Homo sapiens: one gene and its partners. The protein of the gene in region 3 purifies or fractionates together with the protein of the main gene of each other region. This does not show direct contact. Each region holds a gene or a part of one and is shown on either strand. Other genes may lie near its edges. The genes, in order: VWA8, HK1, HSPA12B, EIF2AK4, ARHGAP35, PPP6R1 and L1CAM.

Region 1 (3,500 bases), on a different chromosome or scaffold from region 3:
TTTAATCCATTTTACCATAAGAGTCTTAGAGCAGATAAATAGATAGCTTGTTTGAGAATTACATGTTTTACTAGTTGAAGAACTTTATTTTATTTAAGGGGAAGTAGCTAAAGAGGGACATGACTGTATCTGACACATTTAATATGAATATCTTGTTTTGTTTGTCTTTAGGAAACTTATAAAATGTGTAAAGAATTTTCACACAAAAACTGGCTGGTGTTCTACAAAGAAAAAGGGTGAGCTCTTTATTATAGAGGATTTAAACTGGAGTTCTTATTTGGCCCATTCTATTTCCTATTTTGATTATACTTGTTTACTATAAAGTGAATGTAACCAAATTATGAATGTTTTAATATAAAGTAACTTGCCCACATTGCAGAATATTGAGAAACAGATATAAGAAAAGCTAGTGCTCACAATTCCATGACATAGCCACTACTAACATGGCAATGGTTACTACTTTCCATTATTTTTACTTATACACACCCTGACATAGTTTAGAATTTTGCATATCTGTTTTTTTAATTAACATTTTTCTATATTATTACTTAATCTTAAAACATTCTTTTTATGGGTTGCATAATGTATCATGAAATGATTATGCCAGATTACTCAACCATTATCCTCACCATTTCCTTTCAGATACAGTTTTCTTCTTTTCCAGGAACAGCCTGACTGTGCTGGATGTTCTAGAAGGGCGAACTCACACCATCTCACTTCCCATCAACCTCAAGACAGTTTTCCTTGTAGCAGAGGACAAATGGCTTCTGGTGGAGAGCAAAACAAATCAGTGAGTGGCTTTATATAGTGTATCATGGAGTATGTTGTAGCTCAATCTTATTTATGAATTATCCAACATCTTTACTGTTCTGTCTTTCCTGTGTCTGTCCTTTAACAATTTCTGTGTTTGGCAGCATCTCTATATATGAGACTTATAAGAATTGAGGAGGGGAGAAAAAATAAATGTCACTTCTCAGAAAATGACATTGAAATTAACAGTTAAAAAATCATGACTTTTTCATATGATCCATATTTATTTGGGCTTTTTCCTATTTGTACATTGAGAATTCACTGTATTCTTGCTAAACTGGAGACACTTCAAAGTAGATTTTCCCTTCAAAGAGCCACAGTCTCTATCCTAGAGCTGTTGCCTCTTTGTAAATTCACAGAGTTCACACCTTAGAAGTGTCTTTCTCTTTTTATCTTGTGTATTCTGGTTTGGATGTGGTTATGTTTATGTTTATGTTATCTGACCCATTGGACTGTGCAGTTCTTGATGAAAGGCGGTGTCGACTTTGAGCACCTTCCCTCATGCACAACTCCACTAGCTAAGTGCAGACTCTTTCTGCCCCTCTGCTGACAAGCAGAAGTATCTCATTGCAGAGGATTTCTGCCTATATATACATCCATATTTTAGAAATGTTAAAAATAAGTAGATCAAGGAGACTACAGTTGTGAGGGCATCTATCTCCTAGCTGATCACAAATCAGAAGTCATACTCCCCCTTCCTGGCTGATCAAAGAGTTTTATCAAGAGAGGGTTACATGATAATAAGAGTGCACCCCATTAGAGTTGCTTCCCCTCCCCACAACCCTTTCTCTTATAGGAAGCATTGGATTTTTGCCTCACATTCATTACTGTATTGCTGTTGTGCACTGCTCTTTAACACAGTGTTGAGAAGTTATTTGTTAATTCATGATGAAACTCTAAAACTGCAAATTATACTGGAACTATAAAAAAGAGACTGAGGAGAATCTAATTTTTCTTAGTCTGGCCTTATTACTATTAGAAAAAGAAAAATTTCACTTAAGCTAGATGTTTTGTTTGTTTGCAGGAAATATCTTTTAACTAAGCCTGCACACATCGAATCTGAGGGTAGTGGGGTTTGCCAGTTGTATGTGCTGAAAGAGGAGCCGCCCAGCACAGGGTTTGGAGTTACACAAGGTAAATACTATGTCATCTGTGTTTATGGCTGTGTGAGTGCATGCTTGTACATATACTGTCTTCTAGAATCATTTAAGAACAAAACACCAGCCTATGTTAAGTTTACACCAAAAGAAAAAACTTAGTCACTACACCAGAAATAGTAAATAAGAATCTAGTATCTCAAATTGTCATAAGGAAGTTCACTGTTGTAAGCTCTGTCCTTGAATTTTTTTAACTGACAGATCAGTATTTTTATATACATTTAGGTTGCAAGTCTAATTTAGGATAACATCTTTTTTCTGCAGACTATTGGGATTTCTATTTAATTTATCACAGTTTTGGGGGATGAATAGTACTTACGAAAAAAATCTAAAACATACCATTGCCAACCCTTGGTTGGGTCAGTTTTTACATCTTTTCTACAGGGAGCTATTAATTATAATATTTATTCCTAATAAAATTTTGAATTCTGTAAATACTTGAAATCACTTTGGGAAGATGCCTTGATTATAAAAACAGCATTTTTTCAAACAAAAGCCCATGAATGTAATTTAAAATGTTTTCTCTTTTTTAACTTGTTCTTTTCCATTTGACTTGTTGAGAATAAAATCTTGCAAAAAATTAATTCCTGGAGCATTTCAGGAGCATATGGTGTCTAATGTTTGTACTTTTCAGAAACAGAGTTCAGCATACCTCATAAAATTTCCAGTGATCAACTATCATCTGAACATCTAAGTTCAGCTGTGGAACAAAAGATTGCCTCTCCCAACAGAATTCTCTCAGATGAGAAAAATTATGCTACAATAGTTGTTGGTTTTCCAGATCTCATGGTAAGCACCCATTTTTTAAATTATCGGATAAATGTTTCTTTCCCTTAGTTTGACCTATAATCTGTAAGCCTGTTTGAGGGGTAATTAAAAACATAATTTCCTGGTAAACATGTTGGATCAAGTCTTCCTTCCAAATCAGTCAGTAGAAAATATGTTATACCTAAATAGTTTCATTACACTTCAAAAATTAACATTGAAAGCGTAATGCAATGATAGAATTTAGTAGGGGGAAATGAGTATTCTCCATATGTGGGGGTTCATGTAATACAGTTTAAATGCTTAACCTTCTGATGGTAATTTTCTGTCATGTCTTCTATAATTTTTTAAAGTTAATTATTTTTCCATCTACACATTCTATATATTTATTTATTAACTTTTATTTTAGGTTCAAGTGTACGTGTGCAGGTTTGTTATATAGGTAAATTGCATGTCACAGGAGTTTGTTGTACAGATGGTTTGGTCATCCAGATAATAAGCATAGTACCTGATAGGTAGTTTTTTGATCCTCACCCTCCTCCCACTCTCCACCCTCAAGTAGGTGTCAGTATCTGTTGTTCCCTTCTTTGTGTCCGTATGTCCTCGATGTTTCGCTCCCACTTGTGAGAACATGTGATATTTGGTTTTTTGTTCCTGTGTAAAGTTAAATTTGTTGGATTGTCATTATTGTAGATTAAAATTTTCAACAGTCATGAAGATAGATTTATTTTCCATTGAGTTTTGCTCTGATTTATCATATCTTTGCAG
Region 2 (3,500 bases), on a different chromosome or scaffold from region 3:
CCCCATGTAGTCCAAGAAGTCAGAGATGCAGGAGACAATGTGATCAAACAGCTGCAGGGGAAAAGAAAGGATCGCCCGTGCTCTCTGTGGTTTTAATTTTATCAGTGCACATGGACCAAAGTGTGTATACACACACACACGTAGGAAAACACACCCCACACACATGCAGAGTGAGCCTCCTTTTCCAGAATCTTCTCAGCCACCAGAGTGTCACAAGCCAGGCATGGCAAAAAGCATCTGGTGCTTCTGGGCCACAAGGACACAAATCCATGTGGGCACCCCGTGGCGGATTTTGGTCATCACGTGACTGCCGGTGCCACTGGCCGTGTGTGCAGTGCACATGCACTATGGTTTTGTAATCTCACCTCTTCCCCAGTGCCCTGCATGATTTCAATAGGAATGGCGTAGATCTTGTTGTGCATTTCCACCGTTCTCTTTTTCCCACTACGGATTTTCACCAGCAGCACACGGAAATTGGTTCCTCCAAGATCCAGGGCCAAGAAGTCACCATTCTCTGTTGCAGTCAAAAGCGTAAAGAATGTCAAAAACAGCTAAGTGCCTCTTGGCAGCCAGTAACCCCAAGACTCCAGACTTTCAAGGGGAGAACCCCATAGCAAACATAGAGGAGAAGCTGCAACTCCTCCCTTTAGGACACAGCACAGACTCAGAGGAAGAGTGGGCACCACATCTCTGACCACCACAGACTTGGAGCCACACTGGGAGGAGAGCATGTGAGTAAACCACCTGTCACAATACACAGACTTCACCAGGGCTGCAACAATGAAAATCTCCTACAAAAAATAATAATTTATGTCAAGGTGTGGGGTATTTGCAAAAACAGCTGCATCATTCCCTTCCCTGCATGTGCAAAATCCTTCTTTGCAACATGACTGCAGTTCCTCCCACTGAAACATGGAGTCAATTTCTCCTCCCCTGGGATCTAGCCCAGCCCTAGGATTGTTCAGGCCAACAGAGTGTGGCAGAGGCAAAGCTGAACCTATCCCCAGCCTGGGCTTCCAGGAGGCTTTGAAGTCTTCCCCTCTCCCTCGCAGCCCTTGCTGCCACCACTTGAACAGCCAGGTGGCCCACTGAAGGATGAGACACAGGGCCAGGGGCCCCTGCACCCCAGCTGACAGCCAACTGCTGGACATGTGGGGAAGGGCGTCTGAGATCTGCCTCCCAGCTGACTCAACAGCTGACTGCAGATGCAGGAATGAGGCCGGCAGAGGTCAGCCAATCCTGGCCCTGATGAGCAGAACTGTCCAACTGACCCACAGATGCATGAACAATAATAAAGCGTGGTTGTTTTAAGCCACTAAGTGTGAGGGTGGCTTATAATGTGGTATTAGGTAACTTACACATAGGACACATTCCTGTCACAAACATTCGTTACTCCAAGGACCCACCTGAAAAGCTCTTCAGATTCCCCATAATGATCAGCTCCAGTGAAAACTACCAAGGTTAGCATAAAGGGTTGGATTTTGTTCTACAATTTGCCTGAATGCGAAACTCCCCAGGCCCTGAATGCCTCATGCATACTCTATCAAGATTTAAGAAGGGTACACTGAGTGTTTATCCTTCTGCTGGCTTTCCTTGGCTTTGGGAAAACCTAATCAGTGCTGTGGGATTTGCCCAGCTTTTAAGAACACTTCTTTTTTATTCATTTAATTTTTTTTGAGACAGGGTCTTGCTATGTTGCCCAGACTGGTCTTGAACTCCTGGGCTCAAGCAGTCCTCCCACCTCAGCCTCTTAAGTAGCTGGATGACAGGCGTGTGTCACCTTGCCCAGCTAAGAGCACTGTTCTGAGCAGGGCTGTGGTTTTAGAGATAGCACTTGCCTGGGAGGTCTGACCAGGAAAATTAAACTGCCCTGAGTCACACACATGACAAATCAGTTAATAAAAATGGAAAACAGAGATGTGAGGGAGTTTCTAGCTCTGGCAAAATCGTGCATCACCAGTGTGAAGGCATCCACTGGCGAATCCAACCTCCCCCACTGCGGCTCAGTTCCTGGCAGGAGCAGGACAGGCATGTCAGCCCCCAGCAGGCCCTCACCGGTCCCGTCGGGAGTTCTCCGGACGAAGGAGGGCAGCATCTTAACCACGGCATTGTTGTGCGTCTGCTTCCTCAGCCCCAGCTCCATCTCGGCCCGCATCCTCTTCTTCACCTCCAGCAGCATGTCCTTGGTGAGGTGGAAATGAGCCAGGGTCTCCTCTATCTGCCGGTGCTGCTCGGCCAAGCGGTAGGCCACCGCCGTCACCATGGCAGCCCCCTTGCCGCTGCCACTCTCCGAGAGGAGGAAGCGCACATCGGAGTCTGGCACCAAGCGCCTTAGAGTCTTGTGGAAACGCCGGGAATACCTTATGGGGGCAGGGGGGACATTCCACAACAGCTGGACTGAGCATTTATTGGGGACCTCCGGCCACCCTTTCTTTCTCCACTCTTTAACTCTTTTTTCTTTTCCTTTTTTTTGAGACAGGGTCTTGCTCTGTCACCCAGGCTGGAGTGCAATGGCACAATCACAGCTCACTGCTGCCTCAACCTCCCAGGTTCAGGTGATCCTCCCACCTTAGCCTCCCGAGTAGCTGGGGCCACGCCCGGCTAACTTTTTTGTATTTTTAGTAGAGACAGGGTTTCGCCATGTTGCCCAGGCTGGTCTCAAACTTCTAGGTTCAAGCTATCCACCCGCCTCAGCTTCCCAAGTGCTGGGATTACAGGCATGGGCCACTGTGCCCAGCCTAATTCCATTTTCTGCACCTGCTTTTTTCATTACACAAATCATATACATCCACTGTAGAAAAGTTAGCAAATGCAGAGAGGTAAAAAGGAAAAATGAAATCGTTCATAATCACACATAAAAAGAGAAGACTCTCATTATTACATGAGTATCACATACAAAAAATTCCAGGTCTAAAAAGATTTTGCCCTCCACCATGACAGGAAGATAATACAGCACAGTGGTCAAAAGCACGGTGTTCAAAAGTCAGATGGGGCCAAGTGCGAGGTGGCTCATGCCTGTAATCCCAGTACTTTGGGAGGCCAAGGCAGGTGGATCACCTGAGGTCAGGAGTTCAAGACCAGTCTGGCCAACATGGTGAAACCCCGTCTCTACTAAAAATACAAAAATTAGCTGGGTATGGTGGCAGATGCCTGTAATTCCAGCTACTCGGGAGGCTGAGGCAGGAGAATTGCTGGAACCTGGGAGGCAGAGGTTGCAGTGAGCTGAGAGCACACCACTCCGCTCCACTCCAGCCTGGGCAACAGGGCAAGACCCTGCCTTCAAAAAAAAAAAAAAAAAAAGGTTAAGATGATATACTTCATGTTATGTGTATTTTACCACAATCTAAAAAAATTCTAATGTGATGCTGCAAATCCCTAGGCTTTCTTGTCCAAAAAATTAGCCAAGAAATTACAAAGAAAAAAGAAAGAAATGGCTAATAAAAGTTTCATTATCAAGATTTTTGCAAATACTTTAAAAATATTTTAAAAATACAATTACG
Region 3 (4,138 bases):
TCAAGAAAAAAAAAAAAAAAAGACTGAGTCCTCGCTCTACACTGGATTCCACATCCAAACCATGGGCCTATACTCTTCCCAGCTATCGGAAGCTTGTCCAGTTATCTACCGTCTCTCATTGTGCGATATGCTGAGTGCCCCTATGCTGGGGTTTCAGGGATGGCAAGAGCCTATTATGGCACCTAGCGTGAGTGCATCATGCCACATCTCTGTGCCTCAGTGCCCTTTCCTGTAGAATGGGTGACACAGAGGGCTTATGTTAACAAGTCCAGATATGCAAGGTATTGATAAAAGCAGGGAGTTGGGCAGGTTTGAGCAGTGTTCTTTCCCTTCATGATGCAGATTCTGAATTTTCTTGTTAGATATTTTGGTCTTACTGAGAATCGCATTCTAGTCATCATGAGTTCTTTAAGGAAGGAGGTAGGAACTAAATCAATCTGTGTTAAGGGCTGGGTGTGGTGGCTCATGCCTGTAATTCTAGCACTTTGGGAGGTCAAAGTGGGTGGATTGCTTGAGCTCAGGAGTTCGAGACCAGCCTGGGCAACAGCAAAACCCCATCTCTACGAAAAATACAAATATTAGCCCAGCGTGGTAGTGCATGCCTAGAGTCCCAGCCACTTTGGACGCTGAGGTGGGAGAATTGCTTGAGCCCGGAAGGTTGAGGCTGCAGTAAGTCATGATCACACCACTGCACTCCAGCCTGGGTGACAGAGTGAGACCCTGTCTCCAAAAAAAAAAAAAAAAAAATTGTGTTAAAGAAGGAGGATCCCACGGATTCCCCGAGAGGTGGAGGTAAGCCAAGAGGTGGCTGACTGCCAAGCGAGCACACACACCCAGGGACACTTAAGGAGAGTGCTGACCACAGAACACGGGACAAGCCCAGCTCCCGAAAGCTAGGTCTGGGCAGAGTCCACAGCTGAAAATGAGGGGAGGCTGAGCCCCGCTTCAGGGGCCTACTAATTTCAGACTGGTGGTGCCTATGGGTTTGAGAGTAATTGAGTGGGACAGTTTGATTTACACAGAAAGGAACTCCATTTCCTGGCTACAAGCACATGCCAAACTCTGGCCCCAGCCTGATCCCTAACCCTGCCCATGGACTGACCCCTAACTCTTGGCTTCATATTGACCTCTAGTCATCAGCTTCACCCTGACCCCTGGCCCTGACTTCTACCCAATAGGCAGGGCCGATTAGTCACTGGGGACCAGGATAGGGTGTGGCCCAGCAGGAACTCACAACCAGAGACTCCCATCCCAGAGTATCCCCTGGTCTTACAATAGCCTAGGACGAACCCTGCCCCCACTCCCGCTCCTTTTTTTGAGACAGGGTCTTGCTCTGTTGCCTAGGCTGGAGTGCAGTGGCACGATCACGGCTCACTGCAGCCTCGACCACCTGGCCTCAAGCGATCCTCCCACTTCATCCTCCCAAAGTGCTGGGATTACAGGCGTGAGCCACCTTGCAGGGGCCCAACCCTTTGCCTGACAGAATCCTCGGAGGATCTCTTCCTGTGTGGGGTGTTTCAGCTGGGCGCTCATGTCCCCAGGAGCACTATGGGAATGCAGTGTTCTGGGTTTCAGGGCTCCACACGATGCCTGTGTAGACAAAGAGCCCACCCAGGTCATTCCAGCTCCCCTCCTCACTAGGACCCTGCCTCTTCCGCCTGCTGCTCTCTGCTCAGCACCCAGCCAGCCCTGTAATGGAACAGGACTCCGTCAGCGGGCTAAGTGAGGCCACAGGCGTTTCTTCCAAGCCACAGACTGGGCCAACCAGGGCCCAAAGCACAGATCAGAAACGGCACCCAAAGGGCTGCCCCACTCTGTTCTGGAGAGGAGCCCTTAAGAAGATGGGACCATGTGTGGCTGAGTGAGGTGGCTGCCCCATCCTGCGCTGGGGCAGGGAGTGACAGAAATGGCCTCCCATGGCCCCTCCCTGTCCTCATCTTTGCTTTCCATACATCCTGCCGCACCCCCTTGGGTCCTCATCATGGGAGCAGCCAGTTCACAAACAACAGAGCCCCTCCCATGCTCTGCCCACAGCCCCCCATTACCCCTCTGGCCTGGGATTCCTGCGCTGCGTCTGCTCTCCGGAGGGTCCCTAGTTTCGTGATCACTCCCTTCCAGTCTCTCTCATCAACACACGCTAACCTCACAGATAGGCTCCACTGCCCTAGCGGGAACCTGGACCCCACCCCACCTGGACCTCAAGCTGGCCCGGAAGACCAGGTCCCAGCCTCAGACCCTGGCACCTGGGCCACTCAGTACTCTGTTGCGCTTCGGGACCACAGGGCCTGGGACCCCTGAGGCACCCCCCAACACACACACATACACTCAACTCCCAGGTTTCCACCTCAGACCTAGGCACCGGGTCCCTCAGTTTGGCTCCCTGGAGCAGGCCCCAGCCCACACCAGTCCTGCCAGCCCCTAAGACACAGGAGTTTCTCCAGCCTAAGCCTCTGAGCAGCTGTGCGAGGGACAGGGGAGGTGGTCCCCCGAAGCCCAGGTGGGAGACCAAGGTCGCTGCCCCAAGTGCCTTCCCGAGCCCGCAGCCACGCTGCAGAGAGGGGCTTGCAGATCTGTCCCCACCAGACAAAGTCTGGAGGTTTTTGGTGGGGTCTCAGCCGACAGCCCGGGACGGCAAACCTCCTCGCCTTTCTCCACTCGGGGCGCCCGGCAGCCCCCGCCCCAGAACTCACCTCCGCCCTCCCGACAGCTCCAGCCCCGTCCAGCCGCCGCGATCCCGGGCCCGCAGCTCGTTGGCCGTGCCCGCTGCGGCGGCCGCAGCCCTCGACGTGCGCCCGGCCCTGAGGCCTCCCGCCTCCTCGCGCCGCCCACCCCGCCCGCCGCCCCCTCCCCCAGGCCGGATGGCCGCGCCGCCTGCGCCGCCGGGTCGGCCCGCGCTCCCGGCCCAGATGTGCGAGGCCGGGGCGGGGCCTGCCTGCGCGGGCCTCCGCCGAGGGGCCCAGCCTGGTCCCGCGTCCAGGGCCCCTCCCTGAGCCCCTCCTGCGCCTCCCCCGCTCCCCTAGCAGCCCAGGGGGTGGGAGAAGGGAGAGGGGGCGGCGGAGGGAGGGGAAGAGGAGTTCCAGACCCTGGTCGGCCTCCTGCGGTCCAGCTGCTGAGGGGCTCCCCCGCCCCGCCCCCACAGGCCCACCTTGGGGCTCAGCCTCGGCCCCTTCAGCGAGGGCCCAACAGCGGAGGGGGAAGGGCCCGCCCTAGACCCCTCCACTTCCCTGCCCCAGACCCCTCCAGTCCCTTGACCCGGAACCCTCTCTCCTCCCACCCCTACTGCCCCTACAGCTTCCCTAGCCCGGTCCTCAGTGGCCAGAAAAGAGGCAGAATTGCGGATGAGGGCAGGCCCTCGGGTCCCCAGGCTAGGCCTAGCTCTGTCTTTGCTCAAGTTCAGACGACGGAGGCGCGGAGTCTCACAGACTGAGGCCCCATGCCCGGCAAGGGGACCACTCCGCACCAGGGGGCACCCAGCCTCTCCTCCGAGGCACACAGCCTTTTTCTTGTCCTAACCGGGGCCCTTCTGGGGATGCTGGGACTTGGCCTCCAGACAGGGGGTTTGTGGGGTGAAGGTCTCTTTCTGGGCTGGGAACCCGTGGCTCATGCCTGTAATCCAGCGCTTTGGGAGTCTGAGGTGGGAGGATGGCTTGAAGCTGGCTGGGCAACAAAGACCAGCCTGGGCAACAAAGGGAGACCCTGTCTCTAAAAAGTTTTAAAAATTAGCCAGGTGTAGTAGCTCACGTCTGTAGTCCTAGGTACTCAGGAGGCTGGGGTGGAGGATTGCTTGAGCCCAAGAGTTTGAGGCTGCAGTAAGTGTGATCACACCACCGCACTCCAGCTTGGGTGACAGAGAGAGAACCTGTCATAAATAAATGAATGAACGGATGAATGAATGAATTTCTGCTAGGTCCCTCGTGGAGCTTTCAAAGGCAGCTGACTCGTTCTGCCTGTTCCCCTTCCCCTCTGCCCCATGTGCCCCCACAGAAGTTCCAGATGCTTCTCAGTCCACCTCCCTTTGTGCCTGGGAAGGCTGCCCGTCAGAGAAGGGCCCCACAGCCCCATCAAATGAGGCACAGTTCTTGGGACATCCCTTTTGCTCTTCCACTCCAAACCTTTGCAAGGGCTATTTTCCCTCCCT
Region 4 (3,500 bases), on a different chromosome or scaffold from region 3:
TATGCAAAGGGGAGAGGTGGTCCGAAATTGTTTGTCTGCCCACATTTTCCAACAAAAAGGTTCAAGTCATGATGCAAGATCCAAAGTATACAAAAAGTATGGCTGGGTTCACATCAACTGTTTTCAGAAAAATTCTTCTTCTTTTTTTCTTTTTTTTTAAGAGAGAGGGTCTTGCTCTATGGCCCAGGCTGGAGTGAAGGGGTGTGATCATAGCTCACTGTAACCTCAAACTCCTGGGCTCACGCAATTCTCCCACCTCAGCCTCCTGAGCAGCTTGCACTATAGGCATACACCACCACACCCAGTTAATTTTTTTAGAGATAGGTGCTCGCCATTTTGCTCAGGCTGGTCTCAAACTTCTGGGCTCAAGTGATCCTCCCACCTCAGCCTCCCCAAGTGCTGGAATTACAAGTGTGAGCCACCATGCCTAGCAATTTTCAGAAACATTCTTCAGCATCAATAGTACCATCTATAGACTACAAATTTCATTAATCCTATTAAATAAATAAAAATCACAATGTTCCCTTTTGTAGAACCAATAAAACACAAAACATGCTACTCAAAATTGGATTTGAGGTGTAATGGGGAAGTTTACTGTCTTCTTTTAATTCCAGTTTAACAAATCTTACCTCCCCACAGTGTTTCTTGGCCAGTTCTTCTAGGCGAGATTTTAACAAATTGACACTTTCATTTGATAGACCTTTGGCATTTTTTAACTCTATTTCAGGAACTCTGGAAAAGGCAAAAAAAAAAAAAAAAAAAAGAGTTACTCCAGAAAGTATAGCCTGTTTGCATTAATATTTGCTAAACTGAAAGCACTCTGGGCCCAAGGCCCTTAATCTCAAAGGGACTTCAACCATATCCCTGCAACTCCAGTTGACAGTGGAGTCACCTGCGTCCTACAGGGAAGAAGTGGGCTGGCCAAAGCCTTCTGTCTGGGCTGTTAGACTTACTGGGCTTGACCCCTGTATCTAATTTCAGCTTTACAATCTGATTAAAATTTCCCAACATCAATTACTATTTATTTCCTACGATTTGACCTGGATCCCTAACTCTGAGTTCTTCACCTTAAAAAAAAAAAAAAATCATTCCAGTTCTGCAGCTGACTCTAGCCCAGTAACTTAACCATGTGCTCCTTTGTATGGTAATTCTCTACCCTAGCTTGCAGCCAATGAGAATTAACCTAGCTCTGACAGCTCACTGGCAAGGCCAAGCGCTCTGCATTCAGGTGTGCTCTAGCATAAAGCAGAACAAGAATAAATAGATGAGTGGAGCCCTGGTGATCCCTCTAGTATTCCCACAACACACTGCTGCATCCCAATCACTCATTCTGATCGAAACCAGGTGGAAATGCTCACTTCTTGTGTATAAATACATCTAGTCATGCACACTCTCTGCACCTCTGCCTAGAGCTCATCTAAGTCAACACTTTCAACTCAAGGACATTACACAACCAGCCCTCGGGTTTCATTTTATTCCCAACCAATAAATATCCAATAACAACTCTCTCAGATTAAATAGGAGTTATTTAATTTTACTGAAGAGATGATGACTCATCACTTTTTACCAAGCATTTCTGAGTAATTCATGGCATTTAACCAGTGAAGTCTTGAGTATGCACTTATCTATGCGTTCTCTCAATGCTTCAGTATGAAAGGGTGCTATGATCATTATCTATTTCTATAGATAGAAATCTGAGAGAAAGTAGTCTATATGAGGGAAAGAACAGAAAAACAAACCATACAGTCCTGACTCTATGTATGGAATCCTGGGTTAGATTCCTCCCCAAAGAGCTGGGATGGGGCTGAAATTTCTAGAATTCCTCCCCAAAGGTCTGGGATGGGGCTGAAATTTCCAGAATTCCAGAATCTAACCCGGGAGTCTCTCTCTCACAGTGGCACCCAGGACTATTCTGCAGAAAAGCAATGTTTTCCTGTACCACATTCAAAAGGATAAGAATATTACCCCAAATTAAGATTTTTGTTATAATTTAAAAAATAAGTAATCATAATATAGCAATATTAACAGAATGGAGAAAAAATCATCAATGATGCTAATTAAACTTCAAAAAAAATTCTAATGTTCTCTTTATTTCCTTGCTATATAATTCATAGTTTATGTAGCTGATATTATAATGTTTGCTTTTTAACTTTTATAAGCATTTCCATGTTAAAAGCAATCATCCCATAATATTTTTATCAAGTGGACACATTAAGATTTACCTGAATAGTTATCTAGTGCCATGATTCTTAACCAGGGGTGATTTTGGCCCCAGGGGATATCTGCCAACATCTGGAGACTTTTTTTGGTTGCCACAACCTGGGGAGAAATGTACTCCCGACATCTAGCAGACAGAGGTCAGGGATGCTACTAAATATCCCACAATGCCCAGGAAGGACCCCACAACAAAGAGTTATCTGCCCACATGTCAGTAGTGCCAAGGTGGAGAAACCTCACTCTAGTATTTGACATTTAGATTGCTTCCAATATCTTTGCTTTCACAAATAATGCTATAATTAATATTTTAGCACTTATATAACATTATAGCACTTATACCTTTTTCTTTATTTTGATTTTTCAAGAATAAACACTTTGAATTCTTGAGGCTATGGTATAATAAAAAAATATATATTTGATATTTGACCCCTGTTCCTGGCACAGAGATCCTATCACCCTTGGAATTTCCTGAGCAACAGGGGTGAGAGGAGCATCTTATGTTTTTCATAACAAACCCCTTCCAACCATACCGGAGTTAGTACTCATGAGGGAACTCTGGTCAGTACCTGGATAGCTTCAGGATCAGGACTGGTCACCAGAAAAACCAAGCCTTGATTACAGGGTGAGAAATTTCAGCCCCATCCCAGATCTTTAGGGAGGAGTAGGGGGCTGAAGATCAAGTTCAATCACCAGTGGCCAAAGATTTAATTAATCAATCATCTCTACATAATGAAACCTCCATAAAAACCCCTAAACGACAGGGTTCAGGGAGATTCTTGGTTGAAGAACACAGGGAGGTGCTGGGAGGGTGCCAGGCCTGGAGAGGGTATGGGAGCTCTGTGCCTCTTCCCACACACCTTACCCTTCATAATACTTCCATGTGGCTATTCCAGAGCCATATCCTTTACAACAAACTGGTAAATGTAACTCACAGAAACTGAGTTCTGTGATGCATTCTAGCAATTATCGCAACTTAGGAGGGGGTGGTGGAAACCCCTAAATTTATAGCCAGTTATAAATACTGGCTATAAATGGTCAGAAGTACTGGGACTTGCCACTAGCATCAGAAATGGAGGCAATCTTGTGGAACTGGGTCCTTAATCTGTGGGGTCTTTGCTAACTACAGATAGTGTCAGAATTGAACTGAACTACTGGACACCCACATGGTATCAGAAAAGGCATCATGTATTTGGTGTCAGGAAAAAAAAACAACCTAGAGAGGCACTCTTTTAATTTCCTTTCATAAATTTTTAATTATCTTTTTCATTAATGTTTTATAATTA
Region 5 (3,500 bases), on a different chromosome or scaffold from region 3:
GAAGAAGAAGGGGCACTGCTGGATAAAGAGTTCAATGATTGTCTGGTAGGTGCGCGTGGCTGTGAGGGCGTCCATAGTGCTGAAATCAGGTCTCATCAAGGTGGGCCAGAAGCAGATGGAGAGGTTCTCGCTGGTCATGAGATTCACCTTGTTGTTGTGGCTGACCCTGCGGGCGACACCAAACTCAATGGTCAGAACTGTGCAGGGCCCCACCTGGCCCTGGGCGCTCATGGTCTTCAGCACCCAGGCTGAGCCCACCTTTCTTCCCTCAGGTGGAGCAGAAAAGGCCATGCGCAGCTCTCTGTACCCTGCCCTGCCTGGGAGGCTGCGCCCTCAGTGTCCTCTCCCCTCCAGCCCAGTGCCTCTACATGGCCAACCTCGGAAAGGCTGCCTGGAGCCCCGCAAACCCCTGGGGGTGGATGGACCACCTCAGGGACTCACTCTGCAGCCAGCCAAAGCAGTGGCGGTGCTCCGGCTGTGACGAGGGAGGGAGGCTGAGTGTCCTAAGCCAGAGCGCCATCAGAGGCCACTCGGCCAGCAGATCTCCTCCACACACATGGAACTTCAGGGAACAACCATACGGCCTCCCGCCTGCGGCTGTGCTCCATGCCGGAGGCTGGCTGTCTCCTGCAGCACATCTCTCGAGGTGCAGTGTCCCGGTTCTCCCCAGCTGGGAACGTGAATGCTGTGAGAGGACTTTCAGGGACTCTGAGGTGTTTTTGATTCAGGAGAAGATTTCTGGAGCATCAGTACCAACCAGAAGATCTTCTCTCTCTGCCAGCTTTGGGACACAGGCCTACAAGAGGCCCCATGCCCGCTGGAGCTAAGTGCCCTATCTGGTGTTAGGCAGGTTTGAGGCCACGTGGGCTGCCCTCAGACAGGAGCAGGAGGGAGGCCTGAGGATGGGCGAGAGGCAGAGGCTCTGGGCACCGAGACCAGCGGGCACCATGGGAGGCCAGCCAGCACCCCTTCCAGGCCAGGGCCTGAGGCTTCTACTGGCTTGTGGACAGAGCCTTGTTCTGCGACACACTGACCCTGGCTGTCAATTTTCAGGAGGAAAAACCAACCAGAAGGCCCTGCGACTTACTTGTTTAGGTGAGAGATGACATACTTGAAGACTTCGTGGTTTTCCTTTGGAAATTTCTTTAATACCTCCTTAAGGGCATGCAACTTCTGCTCCCGGTCGTTGATTTCTGAGGAGAGAGAAAACCAAAGCCTTGCCTTTCATGGCCGAGGCTGGTGGCCACCCCAGGGCGTGCTCTGTGATGGGCCTTCTCTGAGGACAGCCCAGGGCTTTTGGATGACACTAACCCCACTCTTTCCCCCAAAGCCTGTGCCCAAGGCTGGCACACCTGGCAGTGGCACTGGCCCAGGGGTCTGGCCCACCTCTGTGTCCCAGGCCCCCGCTGAAGGGCGGCACTGTGTGCCTGGGGCTTCCTGGCCCCCACCACCCAAGACAGAACAATCTGGAGACACTCCGCCATAAAGAACACCATTCTTTGCTCATCCGGTTGCCCCTGGAGACAGGCATCCCTACGCAGAAAGCCTGCTTGCTTCCTGACCAGATGGAGACGGGCGGCCGCTGCCACCCACCCACGCCAACAGGCCTTCGAGGGAGGGAGTCAGTCGGTCATGAGACCAAGGCTCTGTCCTTTTCCTAGAGACACAGGGACCGTCCACACATCCCCGTTGGAGGGGCTGATGGAAACAGTGGGGGAATTCTTATGCACTTCACCAAAGGAACTACGCACCCCCTTTTCCCCCAACGCCCACACTTTGCCTATCATGGAATCCTAATGTCCTGGGGGAGGGAAAACAACTGCCTGGAATGCAGCTTGTAACCCGCGCCAGGCCCAGTTCCATGAGTCCCCACAATCGTGTGAGGCAGGAACTCGTCACCCCATTTTGAGGATGAAGTATCTGAGTTTAGAAGTTGCAGAGCTGGGACTGGCTGTGGGGCCTGAGCTGTGGCCACTGGGCTTGCCATCCCCGAGTGGGTGTGGCCCACCTTGACTGGGAAGGGCATCGGGGCTGGTGAGGCACAAACGTCCCAGAGCCCACCTGGAGCCCAGCTGGCTAAGACAGATTTCTCTGTGCAGGGAAAGATGCCCCCATGTTTCCTTCGTGGACTCCAGGGCTCAGAAGAACCACAGGAGGGTCTCACGAAGGAGATGGCAGCGACCTCACAGCTGGCGGCTGTGGGGGTGGTGAAGAGAGGCCTGTTAAAGCGCAGATGATTGCTAATGGGCCCGGGGGCTCGGGCTCCTTTGGGATAGATGATGGTGCCAGACCGTCTCGGCCGGAGACATATGTGTGCCATTCTGCTGATGAATCCGGGAGGGGTGCGGACTCCCTGAACCAAGTATTCTTTTCTTTCTTTTTTCTTTTTTTTTTTGAGACGGAGTCTCACTCTGTCACCCAGGCTGGAGTGCAGTGGTGCGATGTCGGCTCACTGCAAGCTCCGCCTCCTGAGTTCACACCATTCTCCTGCCTCAGCCTCCCAAGTAGCTGGGATTACAGGTGCCCGCCACCACGCCGGCTAATTTTTTCGTATTTTTAGTAGAGACGGGGTTTCACCGTGTTAGCTAGGATGGTCTCGATCTCCTGACCTCGTGATCCACCCACCTGAGCCTCCCAAAGTGCTGGGATTACAGGCGTGAGTCACCGCGCCCAGCCCTGAAGCAAGCATTCTTTGGGAAACCCATAGCTTCCTAGTCACCTTGCAGCAGGTGACGTACCCAGAGGGTCAGAGTTGGGGGAGTTGCACAAGCACCCTGGTGAGAGTGAGACTTGGAAGAGCAGACAGAATGCCAATGACGGGCACGCTGAGCAGGGAGGAAGGTCCTGTGGTGGTCTGGAGTCCAGATCCTGACTCAGATGGCCCTGGTACAAATCCGGCCTCTCGCGTCAACCGTGTCACCTTGGGCAAGTGACACCTTAGGGTGAGTCTCCTTGTCTGTAAAAGGGGCTGTGGACAGTGCCTCCTTCATTCGGTGACACCTGGCAATTAAATGAAGAGTTCACAGCTGGACACAAAATAAGGGCACCTGGGAGCCAGTCTACTCGCAGGAGCCTGTGGGGAAGGGAGGCCGCAGGGCTGGAAGGGACAGAGCTCCAGGAGCTCTCCCGGGCAGCCTAATGAGGAGGAATGAAACCTGGCAAATCTGTGGCCTTGAGAGTGTGACTTGATAAGAGCAGTGTCTTGGTAACATCTGTCTATCAGAAATGACTAAAAAAGTCCTGGGAGCTAGTTATTGGGCTATGAGCAGCTTCATCTCTCTGAATCCAAGGTTTATTTTAAGGGTTCCACCTCAAGGGCACTTTCTTTTTTTCTTTTTTTGAAATGGAGTCTCGCTCTGTTGCCCAGGCTGGAGTGCAGTGGCGTGATCTCAGCTCACTGCAACCTCTGCCTCCCAGGTTTAAGCGATTCTCCTGCCTCAGCCTCCCAAGTAGCTGGGATTACAGGTGCCCACCACCACGCCTGCTAATTTTTGTATTTT
Region 6 (4,184 bases), on a different chromosome or scaffold from region 3:
GGTCTCAATAGAACAAAGAGGGCAAAGGAGGGGTGAATTTGCTCTTTTTTTTTTTTTTTTTTTTTCTCGAGACGGAGTCTCGCTCTGTCACCCAGGCTGGAGTGCAGTGGCCTGATCTGGGCTCACTGCAACATCCACCTCCCGGGTTCAAGTAATTCTCCTGCCTCAGCCTCCTGAGTAGCTGGGATTACAGGCGCACACCGCCACGTCCGGCTATTTTTTGTATTTTAGTAGACACGTGGTTTCACTGTGTTGCCCAGGCTGGTCTCAAACTCCTGAGCTCAGGCAATCCGCCCACCTCGGCCTCCCAAAGTGCTGGGATTATAGGCGTGGGGTCTTGAACTCCTGAGCTCAAGTACAGGCAGGCGTGAGCCACCACGCTGGGCCCTTTGTTTTTGAGACAGGTTCTCGCTCTGTCTCCTAGGATGGAGTGCAGTGGTGCAATCCGGCTCACTGCAGCCTCGGCTCAAGCGATTCTCCTGCCTTAGCCTCCCGAATAGCTGAGACCACAGGCGCGGGCCACCAGGCCCAACTAATTTTTTAAATTTTCTTTTGTAGAGACGGGGGTCTCCCTAGGTTGCCCAGGCTGGTCTCCAACTCCTGGTCTCATGCCATCCTCCGGCCTCGGGCCTCCTAAAGTGTTGTGATTACAAGCGTAAGCCACCGCGCCCGGCCAATTCGGAGTCTTAAAACAAAAACAAAAACAAAAAAGTTCCTCGCGCCCACACGATTTTTACAGTAGGCCTCTAACATGGGTAGAGAGGGGAGCTATTAAAGTTGGGGAAACCGAGGCTCAAAGCCAGAGGGACCTTCATCAATCTAGACACAAGGTCTAGGAGGTCTCTTTCAGTTGATGCTATTAGAAGCTGCTTTGGGCGGAACTGGCAACACCAGCGACCCGGCCGGGACTATCGCCAGCAGACGGAAACGACTGAGGGCCTCTGAGGCTCGGAGGCGGCTAAGCGCGAGAGCCGGACGGAACGAAGGCGCCTGGCTTTGGCTGGAGCGAAAACCAGGTCTGGATTTCGCAAGAGCCCGACCCTGGAGCCAAAGCTCCACTATGATTAGAGGAGACAGAACAGCGAACGGATTTCCAAACGGAGCGAGTGGGAAGGGAAATCCTGGAGCGGAATATTCACGGGGCCTTGGAACGGAGCCGGTGCGCAGCTGCGGCTCACTGAGCTGTCTGGGTTTATTCCGGGGCAGACCGTTGGCACCAACGGGCGCAAGCGCGTCTGCGGCGGCGGGGTTCAAGAGTGGGCGGTGTCGGGAGCGCCCGGGCGCACGCGCACTGCACCGCCCAGGCGTGCACCCCGCCCCCCGCACCTGCGCACCAACACAGCCGCGGGAGGGCGGGGCCTCCTGCGTCGTCCTGCGCTAGGGGGATTGTGGGATAGTGGCGGAGGGAGCCGGGCGTCGGAGGCCCTGAGGCCGGCCGCAGAGCCCGGAGATTGAGCGGCTTTGGGGAAGGGGTGGTTAAGGAAGTAGGCCTCGGCTTCCGTCGGTCGCTGCTCGGCTCTGCGGCCCGTTTGGACCGCGGAGGAGGTCGCCTTCCCCTCCCGTGGGGCGCTCGGTTGGACTGTGGAAACCGGGGCAACTTCCCCCGTCTTCCCGGCTGAGGCGCCTGCGTGGGCCTCGCGACCCGGCTCGCCAACCCGCCTCGGCCCGCACGCCCACCTCGCCTGCGGACCCCGGAGGTGCCTACGCGGACTAGTGACGCCCCCCGCCCGTCGGCAACTCCACCCGGCGCTGACCCCCTCAACTCTGCAGGACCCGGCGCGCGAGGACCCCACGACCCGCGGGCGCCTGCGCGGACCCCGCGAGCCCCGGCGCCTGCGCGAGTCCCCGACGCCGCCCCCGCCCCCACTCACCGGGCCCCGCAGCAGGGGCCGGAGCCGCCGGCGGCGGGGCGGGGGGGGGCGCCCCGATGAGCCCCGAGTGCGAGGAGCCGCCGCCCCCCCTCGCAGGTGAGCGGCCCGCGTCGCCCGACCCTCTCTCTCCAGGGCCAGGCGCCCACGTCTTCCCCTCTCCGCGTCCCCTCAGGCTTTTCCCTCTCGGGACCCCCGCGGGTCTTTTCTGCTTCGGATCCTTTCCCTCCTTCCTTCGGGTTTCCTCTCCACGGCACCCCGTTTCTTCCCCCTCGACCCTCCCCAGTCTCTTAATCTCTTCACCTCAGCTCCGCCGCCACCCTAGTCTCAGTCTCTTGCTCTCGGCCTTTTCCCACTCGCTCTCTGCAGCTGCGCTCCCCAGTCCCTGAGCCTCAGCTCCGCTCTCTTGCCTCTCTGGCCGGTTCCCCGGCCCCCCAGGAGTCTTTCTCCCTGGTTACCCTGGACTTTGCCTGCTTACACCCTTCCCTCTCGCCCCGATCTCTGCCCCGCCACCTCTTCCGTGGCGCAGCCTCCTTAGATCCCCGGAGCTCAGGACTGGAGGAGCGGGGCTTGTTTTCACCTTGACCGACCCTCTCCCGCCTCCGGCTTCTTGTGCGAGGGACCTGGGAGCGGGGCTTCTCTGGAGCAGCCACCACTCGGGCCTGCTTCAGTGAGATGAAGCCTGCTGAGGGCAGGCAGGGAGCCTGGCGCTGGGCACCGAGGAGGGGGCATCAGCCCTAGGCCCTGCCCTGGAGGTGGGGCCGGTCCCTGGAGGGGGTACAAAGGCAGAGCCGGACAGTCACAATTCCTGCGTGTCGTGATCGAGGTGACTTAGGGAGCTGCAGGGGGCCACAGAGCGGGAGGCACTGGTGAGACTGACTGGACGGACGGCTTTTTCTGTCTAGGAAGGATGAGTAGGAGGTGACAGATGGAGAGTGGGAAGAAGGGCCTTCCGGGGGGGGAAGGAGCAGCACGTGCAGATATGTCAAGGAAGGAAGGTCGGAGTCCTGAGTGCAGATGTATTGGGAGGGTGAGGGGCAGAGTAGTTCCGCCCGGCGTGCTTATCCAGGCCTCGAATGGGACCTCTGGTTGGGGTCTTTCTTGCTCGCTCGTAGTACACACAGACATGACCATAGACACCCGCCTGAAAGGCAAGATGTTTCAGGAAAGGAAGCTGCGTAGACTGTCAGGTGCGGTACTGGGTTCACAGTTGTAGAGAAACTGCAGTGGGATTTCATCCAGCCCAAGGGCGAGGGTCTAACTGTTAGCGTGCGCTGCAAATGCAGCAAGGACTCGAGATTGCCTGGATAACACAGGATGAGGACTTGGTTTACATACATGCACAACACACATGGAGACACGGCGCCCGGCCACGTGTGCTTACTAGTGGTGGGATGGCTGTTGGAGCTGCTTGTGCTGTTGAAAATGTTATGCTTTTTTTTTTTTTTTTTTTTTAACTCTAGTTCTGGGATTGGGATCATGAGAAGGCAGTCCAGCTAATTGTTAGAGGATCTTTTGCCAGACAGACCTAGGCCGAGTCCGGCTTCTGCCAAGCGAGACCTTGGACAAGTTGTTCCTCGTCTGTAAGTGGGGATAGCAGACTGCTCTCCTCAGAGGGTGGATCTAGGGATTAAGTGCAGGGTTTGTAGAAGCCTGTGGCAGAATGCAAGGCACATGACACTCTGCAATCAGTAGCTGTTTTGATGTTGATGATTTTGAGACTGGGTTTTGCTCGTTTGCCCAGCCTTGAACTCCTGGACTCAAGTGATTTTCCCACCTTAGCCTCCTAAGTAGCTAGGACTACAGGCACGTCCTGCAATGCTTGCTCAATTTTTGTGTTTTTGTACCACGCTTGGCTAATGTTTGTATTTTTTGTAAAGACTGGGTCTTGCTCTGGTGCCCTGCTGTGGTGCCCAGGCTGATTTCAAACTCGTGGGTTCAAGCAGTCCTCCTACCTAGCCTCCCAGAGAGCTGGGATTATAGGCATGGACCACCACACCTGGCCGTTCTTTCGATTATTATTTGATTTGGGAATGTCCATTGCAGTGGCTCTCAACTGGGGGCGATTGTGTCCCCTGGGGGACGATTGGCGATATCTGGAGATGTTTTTGGTTGTTACAACTGGGGGGAATGCTGCCAGTATCTGGTGAGTGGAGGTGGAGGCTAGGGATGTTGCTAAGTGTCCTCCAGTGCATGGGCAGCCCCAACACCGAAAAGAACCGTCCAGCCCAAATGTTAGCAGCGCAGAGGAGGAGAACTTTGCTCCACTGCTGGGGTATGGTGTGTCGTTGTGGCTTATTTGCTCTGTTGTGACTC
Region 7 (3,500 bases), on a different chromosome or scaffold from region 3:
TATTCCAGGCCTAACTGACAGTCACCTCTCCCCAGAAGCCTTCCTGGCCTAGTCCCCAGCCTTCCCTGAAGTTCCAGGAGAGGTGCCACCTGGGCTGGCCTTGGTCACATCCTGTGGCACAGCGGTCCGCTCAGTCACAGTGACAAGACCTTTCCCCTCTTACATCTCCCTCGGCTATCGTGAGGCTGAGTGAGATGGGGCGAAGGGTGTCAGCAAGGAGAAAGGTCGGCGCCAGCCTGGTAGGCCGAGGACACATCAGCTGCCAGCTGAGCCACTCTGGTGGCCTGGCCCAGTGGGCTGCAGGGACAGACTGGGAGTTAGGAGGTAAGGAAGGGAGGGCACTCACGGACAACGTAGATGTAGGCATTGGCCAGCAAGAGCCCGTGCCGGTTGCGGGCCTCACATTGGGTCACCATTGTGTCACTGGGCTGCACGTTGCTCAGGATCAGGGCGCCACGCTGAATCCGGTACTTCTGGTCTTTGGCCAGCTCTGTGCATGCAGCAGGTGGGCCCATGGGCCACAGCCCGGCATTGAGCTGCGTTGAGGCCCTTCCTCACCCTCCTCTTCCTCTCCCCCACAGCCCCCAGGGCTCGCCACACTCCCCACTCCTGCCTGAGGCCCTGCTCACCCTCCACAGGGATCCCGTTGATTCTCCAGGTGACCTCTGGTTGGGGCCTGCCCTGGACTTGGCAGTCCAGGCGGGCAGTCTCTCCTGGCCCATATAGATGGCTCTGGGGCTTGTGCAGCCAGTACGGGGCAGCTGGGAGGAAGGGGAGAGCCGCCCTGAGCCCGCAGCCAGCAGCTGGCTCTTGACCCGGCGCAGACCCTCCCCTCCCCCATGACAGTGGGCATCACAGGCCACTGTCCCAGGAGGTCCATACCCTCCACGGTGACATAGTACGCATGCCGGGCACTGCCCAGTGAGTTCTCGGCCAGGCAGCGGTACTCGCCATCATCCTCCTCGCCCACTTTCAGCAGCTGCAGGGTCTTGTTGTGGTTCTGGTAGGTGACACGGTCGGCTGGCATGGGGCCACTGGGGCGCAGCCATTTGATGGTGGGCGTGGGACTGCCCGGGAGGCAAAGGGAAGAGAGCAGAAGGGAGAAAGGACAAGGCCAATCACCCCAGCCCCCTATACCCCGCGGTGGTCTGAGCTCCCTGCTAGGGCTCCGCCACCCTGCCCTGCCCTGCCCTGCCCTGGGTTCCCAGACTCACAAGCCCTCGGCGATGCACTCCAGGACCAATGGCTGCCCCTGCAAGGCCACCAGGTGGCTGCTGGAGTTGGTGGGGAAGAGCAGGCGCGGCTTCCTGTCAATCATGCTGTTGGCTGCCAGGAGAAAGTGGGTGGGTGGGCTGCCCACTCTTCCCTCCACCCCAGAATTGCAAGGCTGAGGGACTCGACACTCCAGCCAGCCCCCGGGGCCTCTGTGTCTTCCTCCATTAAGGAGAGTGTCCTGTCTCTGCTCTCGACGCCTGGGAAGGGGTCTGGGCAGGGTAGAGGTGGGAGCCAAGCTGTTCTTGAGGAAGCCTGGAGTTGTCAGATGGACCTATGGTGGGAAGGGCCATGCCTGAGGGTGAAAGGAGTCAGGGAGAGAGTGCAGAGCCTCTGAGACTCACTGGCCTTGACCCGGAGGTCAATGGGTTCCTTCTGAATGATGGTCCTGGTGCCTGGGAAGTGGGCGTGGCAGATGTAGTCTGAGTGGTTGTCGGAGGTGAGCACATTGGCAAAGTAGAGGTTGCCGTTCTGGCCCATCGTCACCCGCTCGTCCTGCTTGATGTGCAAGATCTCTGCAGGGGGCAAGGAGGCCGAAGTCATGACCCCGTCCAGGAAGACACCCCCGCTAACACCCCGACCCCACGAGGCAGCCGCTCGCCGGCACCCACTGCTGTTCATCCAGTAGATCCGGAGAGGCTCTGCACTTGGGGGAGGGTTGCAAGGCAGAACCACTGACTCCCCTTCCTCCACCTCCACGGGCTTCACTGTCTCCTTTGGCCACTTGGGGGCACCTAGAAGGGACAGACGGGCTGACACTCTCCTCCTGGTCCAGATGGTGCTAGGCAGGAGAAGGGAGGTGGGGGCAGGGGGGTGGCGGGCTACACCAGGGATGGACGAGGGGGCGAGAGGGTCAGGCCAGTAGAAACTTCACAGAAAAGGAGGCAGACACTCTGGATACCTTCTGGACTCATAGCAGAGACTAGCACTTAGGGAGGCCAGGGTGAGCAGGAGACCAGGAGGCCAGGAAGGGTTAACCTTCCACGGTTCTCAGCTCTCCCTGCCCACCCTAGGAAAGGACGGGTGGGGGGAGGCTGAGGCTGAGGTGCAGTGATGGGGGAGGGGAGCTGTGGAGGGATGCAGGAGTCACAGACCCTTCCATCATCCTGACACAGAAACCATGGCAACGGTTCCCAAGGTAACTGGAGGGGTGGGGAGGGGAGAGGAGAGCGCTCAGGAAGCAGAAAGCTCAGGGAGGATGGAATGCAAAGGGAAAACCCCAGGGAAAAGGCGACACAGATCAAGACAGAGCCGTGGAGCAAGAGAGACCAAGTCGGAGGTGGAGGGGAGGAGATGGAGAGCCAAGTGGAAAAGCCAGAGAAGAGGGGCCCTGCTAAGGAGTGCAGGTGTAGACAGAGATGACTGCAGTGACTCAGGCAGGTCTGCCCAGAATCAGTCACTCCCCCCACCAGCCCGCCCCCCCCTCCCCCCGCCACCTTCCTGCTCAGCCATGAGGCAGGCACCAGGAAAGCCTGAGGGAGTGAAAGGGCATGAGATGACCGGAAGTGCAATGGAGACAGAGACAGGGCAAAGGAGGAGACTGCACAAGAAACAAGATGGGCCAGGGGAGAAGCTGGGGTGGGGTGGAGGGCTGGCAGGACACCCAGGCCCCTCGCCACGAGACAACTGGCTGACAGCAGCTTCCAGCCCACAATCCCACACGAACTCCGGGACCTGCCCTCCCTGGTCCCTGCAGCGCCTCGCACCCTCGGCCATGAGCCGGATCTCATGGGACATGGCGGTGCCCAGCTTATTGCTGGCAAAGCAGCGGTAGATGCCCTGGAACCTCTGAGCAAAGTTGCTGTTGTTGCCCGTGATGGTGAAGGAGCCAGAGTGGGGCGACTGGTACACGGTCACACCCAGCTCTTCCTTGGGTTTGAAGTGGACACCATCCCTCGTCCAGCGGAACCTGTGGGCGGAAAAAGGCCCAGAGGCCTGAGGCCCTGGAACCCAACGGGGGCTGGAACAGGCTGGAGGGACAGGTGCAAGCAGCCAGGGCCCCCAGGGGATGGACTGGGAGATGGCGAGGACTTGGGGTGATTAGCAAGGTTTGGGGCTTCTGGGCTTAGAAGTTAGGCAGTCCAGGGAGGCACAAGGCCGGGGTCAGTGGCAGGCAACAGGGGCTGAGACGGCAGAGATCACTCACTGCACTTCGGGCTTGCCACTGGCCTCACACTTGAGGCTGATGTCATCTGTGGGGAAGACAACCAGGCGCCGTGGAGACTGTT

What was found.
Region 1: the proteins of HSPA12B (region 3) and VWA8 purify together in Homo sapiens (affinity purification with mass spectrometry; one large-scale study listed by BioGRID and IntAct). This does not show direct contact.
Region 2: the proteins of HSPA12B (region 3) and HK1 purify together in Homo sapiens (affinity purification with mass spectrometry, with the first as the bait; one large-scale study listed by BioGRID). This does not show direct contact.
Region 4: the proteins of HSPA12B (region 3) and EIF2AK4 purify together in Homo sapiens (co-immunoprecipitation; one large-scale study listed by IntAct). This does not show direct contact.
Region 5: the proteins of HSPA12B (region 3) and ARHGAP35 purify together in Homo sapiens (affinity purification with mass spectrometry; one large-scale study listed by BioGRID and IntAct). This does not show direct contact.
Region 6: the proteins of HSPA12B (region 3) and PPP6R1 purify together in Homo sapiens (affinity purification with mass spectrometry, with the first as the bait; one large-scale study listed by BioGRID). This does not show direct contact.
Region 7: the proteins of HSPA12B (region 3) and L1CAM purify together in Homo sapiens (co-immunoprecipitation; one large-scale study listed by IntAct). This does not show direct contact.

The regions. Positions count from the first base shown.
Region 1 is NC_000013.11:41,688,610-41,692,109, reverse strand, and holds part of VWA8 (von Willebrand factor A domain-containing protein 8 isoform a precursor), read left to right. Parts: intron 1-171; coding exon 172-236; intron 237-664; coding exon 665-790; intron 791-1,834; coding exon 1,835-1,944; intron 1,945-2,601; coding exon 2,602-2,756; intron 2,757-3,500. UniProt on the Homo sapiens protein: Exhibits ATPase activity in vitro.
Region 2 is NC_000010.11:69,381,347-69,384,846, reverse strand, and holds part of HK1 (hexokinase-1), read right to left. Parts: intron 2,361-3,500; coding exon 2,056-2,360; intron 515-2,055; coding exon 366-514; intron 52-365; coding exon 1-51. UniProt on the Homo sapiens protein: Catalyzes the phosphorylation of various hexoses, such as D-glucose, D-glucosamine, D-fructose, D-mannose and 2-deoxy-D-glucose, to hexose 6-phosphate (D-glucose 6-phosphate, D-glucosamine 6-phosphate, D-fructose 6-phosphate, D-mannose 6-phosphate and 2-deoxy-D-glucose 6-phosphate, respectively).
Region 3 is NC_000020.11:3,731,347-3,735,484, reverse strand, and holds the start of HSPA12B (heat shock 70 kDa protein 12B), read right to left. Parts: upstream 2,801-4,138; 5' UTR 2,691-2,800; intron 1-2,690.
Region 4 is NC_000015.10:39,940,615-39,944,114, reverse strand, and holds part of EIF2AK4 (eIF-2-alpha kinase GCN2), read right to left. Parts: intron 733-3,500; coding exon 630-732; intron 1-629. UniProt on the Homo sapiens protein: Metabolic-stress sensing protein kinase that phosphorylates the alpha subunit of eukaryotic translation initiation factor 2 (EIF2S1/eIF-2-alpha) in response to low amino acid availability.
Region 5 is NC_000019.10:46,996,997-47,000,496, reverse strand, and holds part of ARHGAP35 (rho GTPase-activating protein 35), read right to left. Parts: intron 3,001-3,500; exon of another isoform or gene 2,739-3,000; intron 1,194-2,738; coding exon 1,088-1,193; intron 671-1,087; coding exon of another isoform or gene 565-670; exon of another isoform or gene 424-564; intron 167-423; coding exon 1-166.
Region 6 is NC_000019.10:55,256,218-55,260,401, reverse strand, and holds the start of PPP6R1 (serine/threonine-protein phosphatase 6 regulatory subunit 1), read left to right. Parts: upstream 1-1,384; 5' UTR 1,385-1,967; intron 1,968-2,676; exon of another isoform or gene 2,677-2,789; intron 2,790-3,331; exon of another isoform or gene 3,332-3,451; intron 3,452-4,184. UniProt on the Homo sapiens protein: Regulatory subunit of protein phosphatase 6 (PP6). May function as a scaffolding PP6 subunit. Involved in the PP6-mediated dephosphorylation of NFKBIE opposing its degradation in response to TNF-alpha.
Region 7 is NC_000023.11:153,869,174-153,872,673, forward strand, and holds part of L1CAM (neural cell adhesion molecule L1 isoform 1 precursor), read right to left. Parts: coding exon 3,419-3,500; intron 3,182-3,418; coding exon 2,979-3,181; intron 2,007-2,978; coding exon 1,884-2,006; intron 1,788-1,883; coding exon 1,617-1,787; intron 1,327-1,616; coding exon 1,215-1,326; intron 1,068-1,214; coding exon 883-1,067; intron 762-882; coding exon 630-761; intron 491-629; coding exon 347-490; intron 1-346. UniProt on the Homo sapiens protein: Neural cell adhesion molecule involved in the dynamics of cell adhesion and in the generation of transmembrane signals at tyrosine kinase receptors.